Linked DNA regions of Homo sapiens. The protein of the gene in region 2 purifies or fractionates together with the protein of the main gene of each other region. This does not show direct contact. Each region holds a gene or a part of one and is shown on either strand. Other genes may lie near its edges.

Region 1 (3,828 bases), on a different chromosome or scaffold from region 2:
CATAATGGCATTTTAAGTAAGTGGTTTATGGAGATTTTTGATCCTGTGCCTATTTAGCCATAAAGCATTAGCAACTTGATTAGTTTGTAACGAATTTTAAACCTGCATATTGGGTGTGTCAAGACCTGGGGAAAATTGGAATGGAGAAATGAGTTAGTAGTCAGATAATTCAAAGCAAAGGACTCCCCCTTGAATGATCTATTAAATTGAGGTGAAACTATTTTATTAGAATTTTCTTTTTGATTGCCTTAATCTTTCGCTTCATTTTGCATCTGCAGACACAGGCTTGCTGGTTAGTGTAAGGTTATTTATGACACATTACATTCATAACATCTAATATGAAGGATAATAGGCTGAAACATTCAGCCAGGTGGAATTAGACTTCACATGCAATACAGTTTCGCTATTTCTCGTATTCTTCCAATTGCTCAGAATAATTCACCTGCTATTAAACTTTAGGGTATTAGATTTAACAGAAAACAGTGTATTTATTAATTTTCTTGAAGTATTAAAAGAAGTCACAATAATATGCAACATACTTCCCTTATATGCTTATAAAATTAAGTTATGGTAACTGCTTTTGACATTTTAAAAATATACACCAAATTAAATGGAACTGACACTATCACAGAAGAAGTTCCCAAGAAGTCTCATACATGGGCTGAACCCTATGCAGTTATTATTTACATAGGGCAAAATGGTTGAGTATCTGTTTGATTCATATAATTCAACCTAACTTAACTATAAAGACTTAGTTTCCAGATTTTGACATCCTGGTTTTGTGAGGAGTACTTTCTTCTATAATTACAGATGATGATCATTCCTCTTCATCTTACAAGTGTTAATAATAGGAACAAAAATGTACCTGTCAGAAAACCTCTATGGTTTATACCTACTACAAATAAAGAAGTGAGACCAAGCTAACAATTCTGAATCGCCTTTTTAAAGAGAGAACCATACACTTTCCATTCAGTTGTTTGAAAGAAGAGCAGTCACTCCTTTTTGTTTTGGCTGGTAACATTTCAGTAATAACATTATCTGATATTGTTCAATCTGCAATCAATTAGCAACCATCTTACTAGGCATCCAGTTCTTTTATGGGCACTGTAACCCATTAAGTAGTTAAACCAGGTGTGAGGATTAAGCTATTATTCTTCAAGTCAATGAGATAATGGCTTATGCAGGTTGACATAAGATGTACCATGAAATATTTATTATTTATCATGTATACATTAAGAAAGTAAAATCAGCATGGGATGATCTCAGGAAAGCAATACATATTTTTTGGATTAGACATTGAAGTAAAGTGAATGTATGATAAATTGACAAATTAACATTGCCAATGTTATGAAAAATGATGTAGCAAAAAAAATTAAGATGTATTTTCATTTTTGATAAGGGGTTTTCCCTGTTATCTGTTAATTTCTTGTGTCTTTAATTGGCAAAATTAAGCACTAGTGTTACAGAAGCCCAAAGTGAGGGAAACCACTCACTTTCAGAATGTACATTAGAAGTTTAAAACTGTACCCAGATTTTTTGTCTCTTTTTTTTTTATTAGTAGGCCTCTGTTAATAGAGTAGTAGTTGCAAACACATACGTGGGTTTGCCAGTAACAACTCACAATTTGTGCAAAGTTGAGTCTTCGAAACTGAGCAAATTTGCTCTCAATTTCCCGCCAGCGCTTGCTGAGCTGGATCTGAGTTGGCTCCACTGCCATTGCGGCCCCATCCTCAGACAAGCCCTCAGCTTGCCTACGCACTGCATTCAGCTCCTCTTTCTTCTTCTGCAATTCCCGATCAATTTCCTATTGAGCAAAACCAATACAGGGCCCAGGGCAGTTAGCTAACCACATCAACCGACTTGCAAGCAGCAAATACTTCTCTCAAAATTTCAAAGGCTGTTGTCCCTTTATTGTCATCCTTTGAAGTTTACAAATATGAAAGGCATGACTGTCATCCTCGCTCAATAACCCAAATATTATTTCAGTTATCCTTTGAATGCTTGGTTTTAGATATTCTAATTAAGTAAATATTGAAATTGGTCTAACATTTTCTTTCTTCTAAATTCCTCTGGTGTCTTGGGATTTGAAACAATTTGGAGTGATAACTCATTATTTATTAGGGACCGTCCACATAGAATATAATTTAGAGGGTAAGTGAATAAGTTATTTATTTCCTTTTTAAAGGTTTGAGGAACTCAACAGAGAATGAAGCAAAATAAAAAGTGTAAAATAATAACAGAAAAAAACATATTTAGACAATATGCAAATAAATCTATAGAGAGTGAACACTGATGTGTGAAGATGCTCTGATGAAATGAATGGGCTAACATGAGTAAGAAGTCGTCCATATACCGATAAGTCATTAGTTCATCTGGAACAAAGATACACAAAGTCAATTACAATTTTACCAGAAAACACATCACATTTCTTAAATCACTTTACATAGTCTAAAACATTTTATTCATTCAACATTACGTCAATTGAATAACACTTAATACAATACATTTACTGAAAACAACACACAATACAAGGAAATGCATCAAATCAAAGAGAACGTTAATAGAAACAAGAACATCAACATTTTAAATATGATCTTCACAGGTTAATTAAACTGTATAATAAAATCTGGTATTGACATTCTAAAACAACATTACCTTTATTTTCCTTTCATCTCTGGGCTCAGGTAGGCTGGCTAATTTTTTTTCAATGTCATCCAAGCATTTCAGGAGATCATCAGCCTGCCTCTTGTACTGATACCACTGATGAGAAATTTCTAGAGCCTTTTTTCTTCTTTGAGACCTCAAATCCTGTTCATGGTGCAGACATTATTAAAATATCAATATATATGTATAGTGCACTTCTGGCTGCAGTTATTTATCAAAATAATTTGCGTCCCTCATCTTTTTGTACAACTTAGGTTAAAATCATATTTAAATGCAAAATATACAAAGACATAATTAAATTGCCTATGCATGAGGCGGGACCCATGTATAGGAAGCTAAGAAACCTGAATAACACACTTAAAGTATTTTCTCTTAGCATGTTCAAACTTGCTTAAAAATTTTGTCACATTCAATTGACTCTTAATGAGCTAACTGTTGTGTAGTTTATGTGCAAGAGTTTAATATACGAATACAATTGACTTAACTAGATACAAACTCACAAACCTAGTGAGTTTGTATCTGACTTAAAATAGGTAAAATTCTAAAATGTATATCTTTAGCCTTGGGGCTCATCAACAAAACTTTATGTACTCAACCAATATACATTCATGTTTTTAGAAATGCCTACATAAGAGTTTCATAGGCCATTAATATTTTATGATTAGAAATATAAAGCCATTTTAGTTGTCTTATAAACTGTTCCAAGCTGTATGTGTAGAAGTGTCACCACTGTTCGTATATTGGTGAACATAACTAATAAAAAATTATGTGAGATAAATGCTTCTCCTTCCAAGGCTTGCATAGCCACATTTATCTTACTATACCAAATCATGCTCTAAATGCAAAACAATTAACTATTTGAAAAAAGAAAACAGCAAGTGCATGCTTTCAAATCAATGTGATAAGACTAATTTAATAAATCAACAATGGGAGGAAATCAGTCATCATGCTCTTTACAAGCACACTCAATATCTTCTGTGATTAATAGAATTACTCAAAATGCCATTTTATAATTCATGGGAACATAAGCTCTGCATGCAGCTTTCATTTCTACAGAAAGTAGCAATTAGGGTTTTATTCACAGGTTTAATTCGAGCGAAAAAATAATAAATATCAGGGAATTTCTAAAAATTTCATTCCATTGGAAAATTTTGACCTTCTCTA
Region 2 (3,828 bases):
CTGGAGCCAGAGAGAGACAGCCCCAGCCAGGCTCTCTGCCCCCCAGCTGACTAGCCCTGAGCTTTTAGGCTGGGTCACCCTTAGGATCCGGGTGTGTTCACCTAATACTTCTTTCCCTGAGAACGACAGCCTTCCCCCACCCTCCCAATGGAGAAGAGCCAATACCTCAGTGAGTATCATTTCCCTTCTTTCCTAGCTCCCTACGGGGAAGGAGCCTAGCCTCTAAGTGCATGATGACTTGCAGGGTGGGCTTGAGCTTGGCAGAAGCAACCTTCTCCAGAGGAATCCGACCTTTATTTTTTAACAGCCCTCTTGGAAGGAGGGGTTGGTTTGACACTTCCTTTTTTTTTTTTTTTTTAATTTTTTACCACACTAAATGATTATCTTCATTTTCTTAAAGAAATGTCTTATTTAGGACAACTTCTAAAAGGCTAAAGGACTCACAAACAAAATGTGCCACTGTGGGGCAGGATGTCAAGAGTGGGGCAGGTCACACATGTGCGCCACTGCACTCCAGCCTGTTGACAGAGCGAGACTCTATCTCAAAAAAAAAAAAAAAGTTGATTAATTAAAAAAATAAAGCTTTAAAAAGGTCCACAAAGCCTAAAGGGTGATAACGAGTGCCAACAGCTGAGTACCAACCAGGTCAGAGGACTCAGTTGTGAAATACTCAGTACTCCAGCAAGGAAAAAACACCCTGTGACAGCCCCAAGGTCTTCTGTATTCTCGCTGTAAGCCCAATTTGCTCACGGAAAAATTTAAATAGCACATCCTTAAACAAGTCCCAGATACTCTGGCACTTTCCACTGATAGGCTGCAAAGGGCTTACCATTGAGAGTGACTAGTAGAAGGCTCTTGGTTTTGTTCTTTTGTGTGTTAAGCAGCCATTTCCAGTTGCTTCTGATTCTTATGGCCAGCCTCATTACAAGGTACTACTGCACTTCTGACATCACTGTCCCATCAGTGACTTCATAATTCTAATTATTGCTGCAGTTCTATATCTCCAAAGACTTCTAGTAAATCTTAAGAGACTTAGGGTCAGGAAGCTCTAATGATTTTTCCTCCTCATCTTACTAGTACTCCATAGTCCAAGGAAATAAAATAAATGACTAGATCTATAGTCTTCTGATTTACCCAGGGAAAGGGGCAACATGGACCTCCTGATTTACAGCCAGTTGGTCTGAAAGCACAGATAGGACAAGCTGGGGCTTGCAATTGGCATCAGAAGTTGGGCGCAGTCTTGTAGGACTGAGCCCTGAACCTGTGAGATCTCACCCTATCTCCAGACATAAAGTGTCAGGATGGAACTGAATCAGAAGACACTCAGCTGATGTCTGCTGCAGAACTGATTGATTGGCTGTTGGCAGGAAGAAAGACTCACATACTTAATTTGCTTTCCCTTAAGAAAAAATTTGTCAGCTGGGTACAGTGGTTCACACCTGTAATCCCAGCACTTTGAAAGGATGAGGCAGGAGGACTGCTTGAACCTAGGAGTTTGAGACGAGCCTGGGCAACAAAGTGAGATCCTACCTGTACAAAAAATAAAAAAATTAAGGCCAAGGCAGACGGATCACGAGGTCAGGAGATCGAGATCATCCTGGCTAACACGGTGAAATCCCGTCTCTACTAAAAAATACAAAAAATTAGCCGGGCGTGGTGGTGGGCGCCTGTAGTCCCAGCTGAGCAGAGATCGCACCACTGCACTCTAGCCTGGGTGACAGAGCAAGACTCTGTCTCAAAAAAATAAATAAATAAAAAATAAATAAAATAAAAATTAAAAAAATAAAAAAATTAGCCTGGCATGGTGCTGCATGCCTGTAGTTCCAGCTACACAGGAGGCTGAGGCAGGAGGATCGCTTGAGCCCAGGAAGTTGAGGCTAGAGTGAGCTGTGTTTGCACCACTGCACTCCAGCCTGGGTGACACAGCAAGACTGTGTCTCAAAAAAAAAGAAAAAACTAGTCAAGCAATAACAACCATAAGATCTAACCTAGGTCTCTAATTACATGTGTGATATAGAAGGGTAGGAAAGATAAAATAGAAATTTTGCATACAATGAGAAATAAATAAAAGTTAATGTTAATATTAGGGCAATCACAAAAATGGCATACTGTAAGCTTTAGTATTTTTCTCATTTATTTAATGAAGTATACGCCAGTATTTTACCTTGTTTTTAATCAGCTTGGCTCTTTGAGCAAAGTTAAGTGTTGATAGGGTTTCCCCAAAACACCTGGATCCAGGATGAACATTTGCAATTATGGCTGTTTTGGCATTACCTCCAAGGGAATCCTGTTTAATGATAGGAATGAACATATTTTCGGTGAGAAATCACAAGACCTTTTTAAGCAAAGAAAATGTATACTCTTGCCACCAAGGCTGAGAGACTGTCCCACTATCAACTTTAGCATAACCAAAAGGAGCCCAGGAACCCAAGGATCTACTTTACCCGTAGTAAGAAGGTAAGTTTGGAGTCTCTGTAGCAAACATGTCTCTGTTTTCCATTACCCACGTCGACAAGTGCTGTAATCACTTGGCCCAGGCAGCTCAATGATCGATTTATGTTACCTGCTTCCTAAAGTGTTGACGGAAAAGAACAAAAATTTAGGTACGTTGGTTACTCTTTGGTATTTTGAATGAAAATATATCTAGCAGAGGAAAATTCTGGATGAAAAGGCAAGTCAGGGACAATGTTAATAAAGAACAACTATTCAACAAATAAAAAAGAAGTGCTGAACTATCCCTAACCTTTTCCTATTTGATGTACACTGTAATTTTAGTATTAGAAGACAAACACAGGCTGGCACTGTGGCTCATGCTAGTCATCCCAGCACTTTGGGAGGCCGAGGTGGGCAGGTTGCTTGAGCTCAGGAGTTGGATACCAGCCTGGGCAACATGGCAAAACCCCATCTCTACAAAGAAATACAAAAAACTGCTGGGCATGGTGGCACATGCCTGTAGTCCCAGCTACTTGGGAGGCTGAGGTGGGAGGATCACTTGAGCTTGGGAGGTGGAGGTTGCAGTGAGCTGAGATTGTGCCATTGCACTACAACCTGGGTGACAGAGTGAGACCCTCTCTCAAAAACAACAACAAAAAAAGACAAACACAAAAATCATGCAAAGAAAAAAAATATTAATGTCACTTCATGATTGTAATAGTTTGAAACCGAGCTATAAAGACCAGAAAAAAATAGGGAAAAAAAAGCTAGAGTAGTGCATTAATAGGTACTTTTTTCAATCCTTTTATGCTAAAATATTTAAGGGTATAATGCCTAATAACTCACCCATACAGCCCCCAAAGCCACTGATGAACTTATTTGAGGAGAATATTCAGTTTAATTCTGTAAAGGATAATAAAAACTACTTTAAAACAGAAGCTTGGTGGGGGGAAAAAATGAGCTAAATACGTTACATTAGATTTTTACTGTAGGTAGCATATTTTGAAAACTGGGTCTGCAGTGGAAGGAGTATACAAAAAAGAGAAAAAGTCAAAATTATAATGCAAGATGTACTGAATTCAGAGTCACTGCTGTTATCATTCAGTAAATCAGAAAGGTGGTTAGTGGCATGGTTGAGAGTACTGTAGCAGCTCGGTTTGAATCTCAGCTCTACCTTTATTAGCTGTGTGACTTCGGTTTCTTTAACTGTAAAATAGAAAGAATAGCACCTACTTCCCAGAGTTGTTGGGAAGGTTAAATGAATTAATATATGTAAAGCATTTTAGAACAGACTTGGTATATGTCCTATTATAAGCATATGCTTTTTTTGACACAGAGTCTCACTCTGTCACCCAGGTTGGAGCACAGTGGCACAATCACAGCTCACTGCAATCT

What was found.
Region 1: the proteins of KIF15 (region 2) and DMD purify together in Homo sapiens (affinity purification with mass spectrometry; one large-scale study listed by BioGRID and IntAct). This does not show direct contact.

Annotation. Positions count from the first base shown.
Region 1 is NC_000023.11:32,340,479-32,344,306, forward strand, and holds part of DMD (dystrophin), read right to left. Parts: intron 2,809-3,828; coding exon 2,656-2,808; intron 2,373-2,655; coding exon of another isoform or gene 2,364-2,372; exon of another isoform or gene 1,889-2,363; intron 1,805-1,888; coding exon 1,622-1,804; intron 1-1,621. UniProt on the Homo sapiens protein: Anchors the extracellular matrix to the cytoskeleton via F-actin. Ligand for dystroglycan.
Region 2 is NC_000003.12:44,796,293-44,800,120, reverse strand, and holds part of KIF15 (kinesin-like protein KIF15), read right to left. Parts: intron 2,571-3,828; coding exon 2,445-2,570; intron 2,288-2,444; coding exon 2,165-2,287; intron 927-2,164; exon of another isoform or gene 833-926; coding exon of another isoform or gene 830-832; intron 1-829. UniProt on the Homo sapiens protein: Plus-end directed kinesin-like motor enzyme involved in mitotic spindle assembly.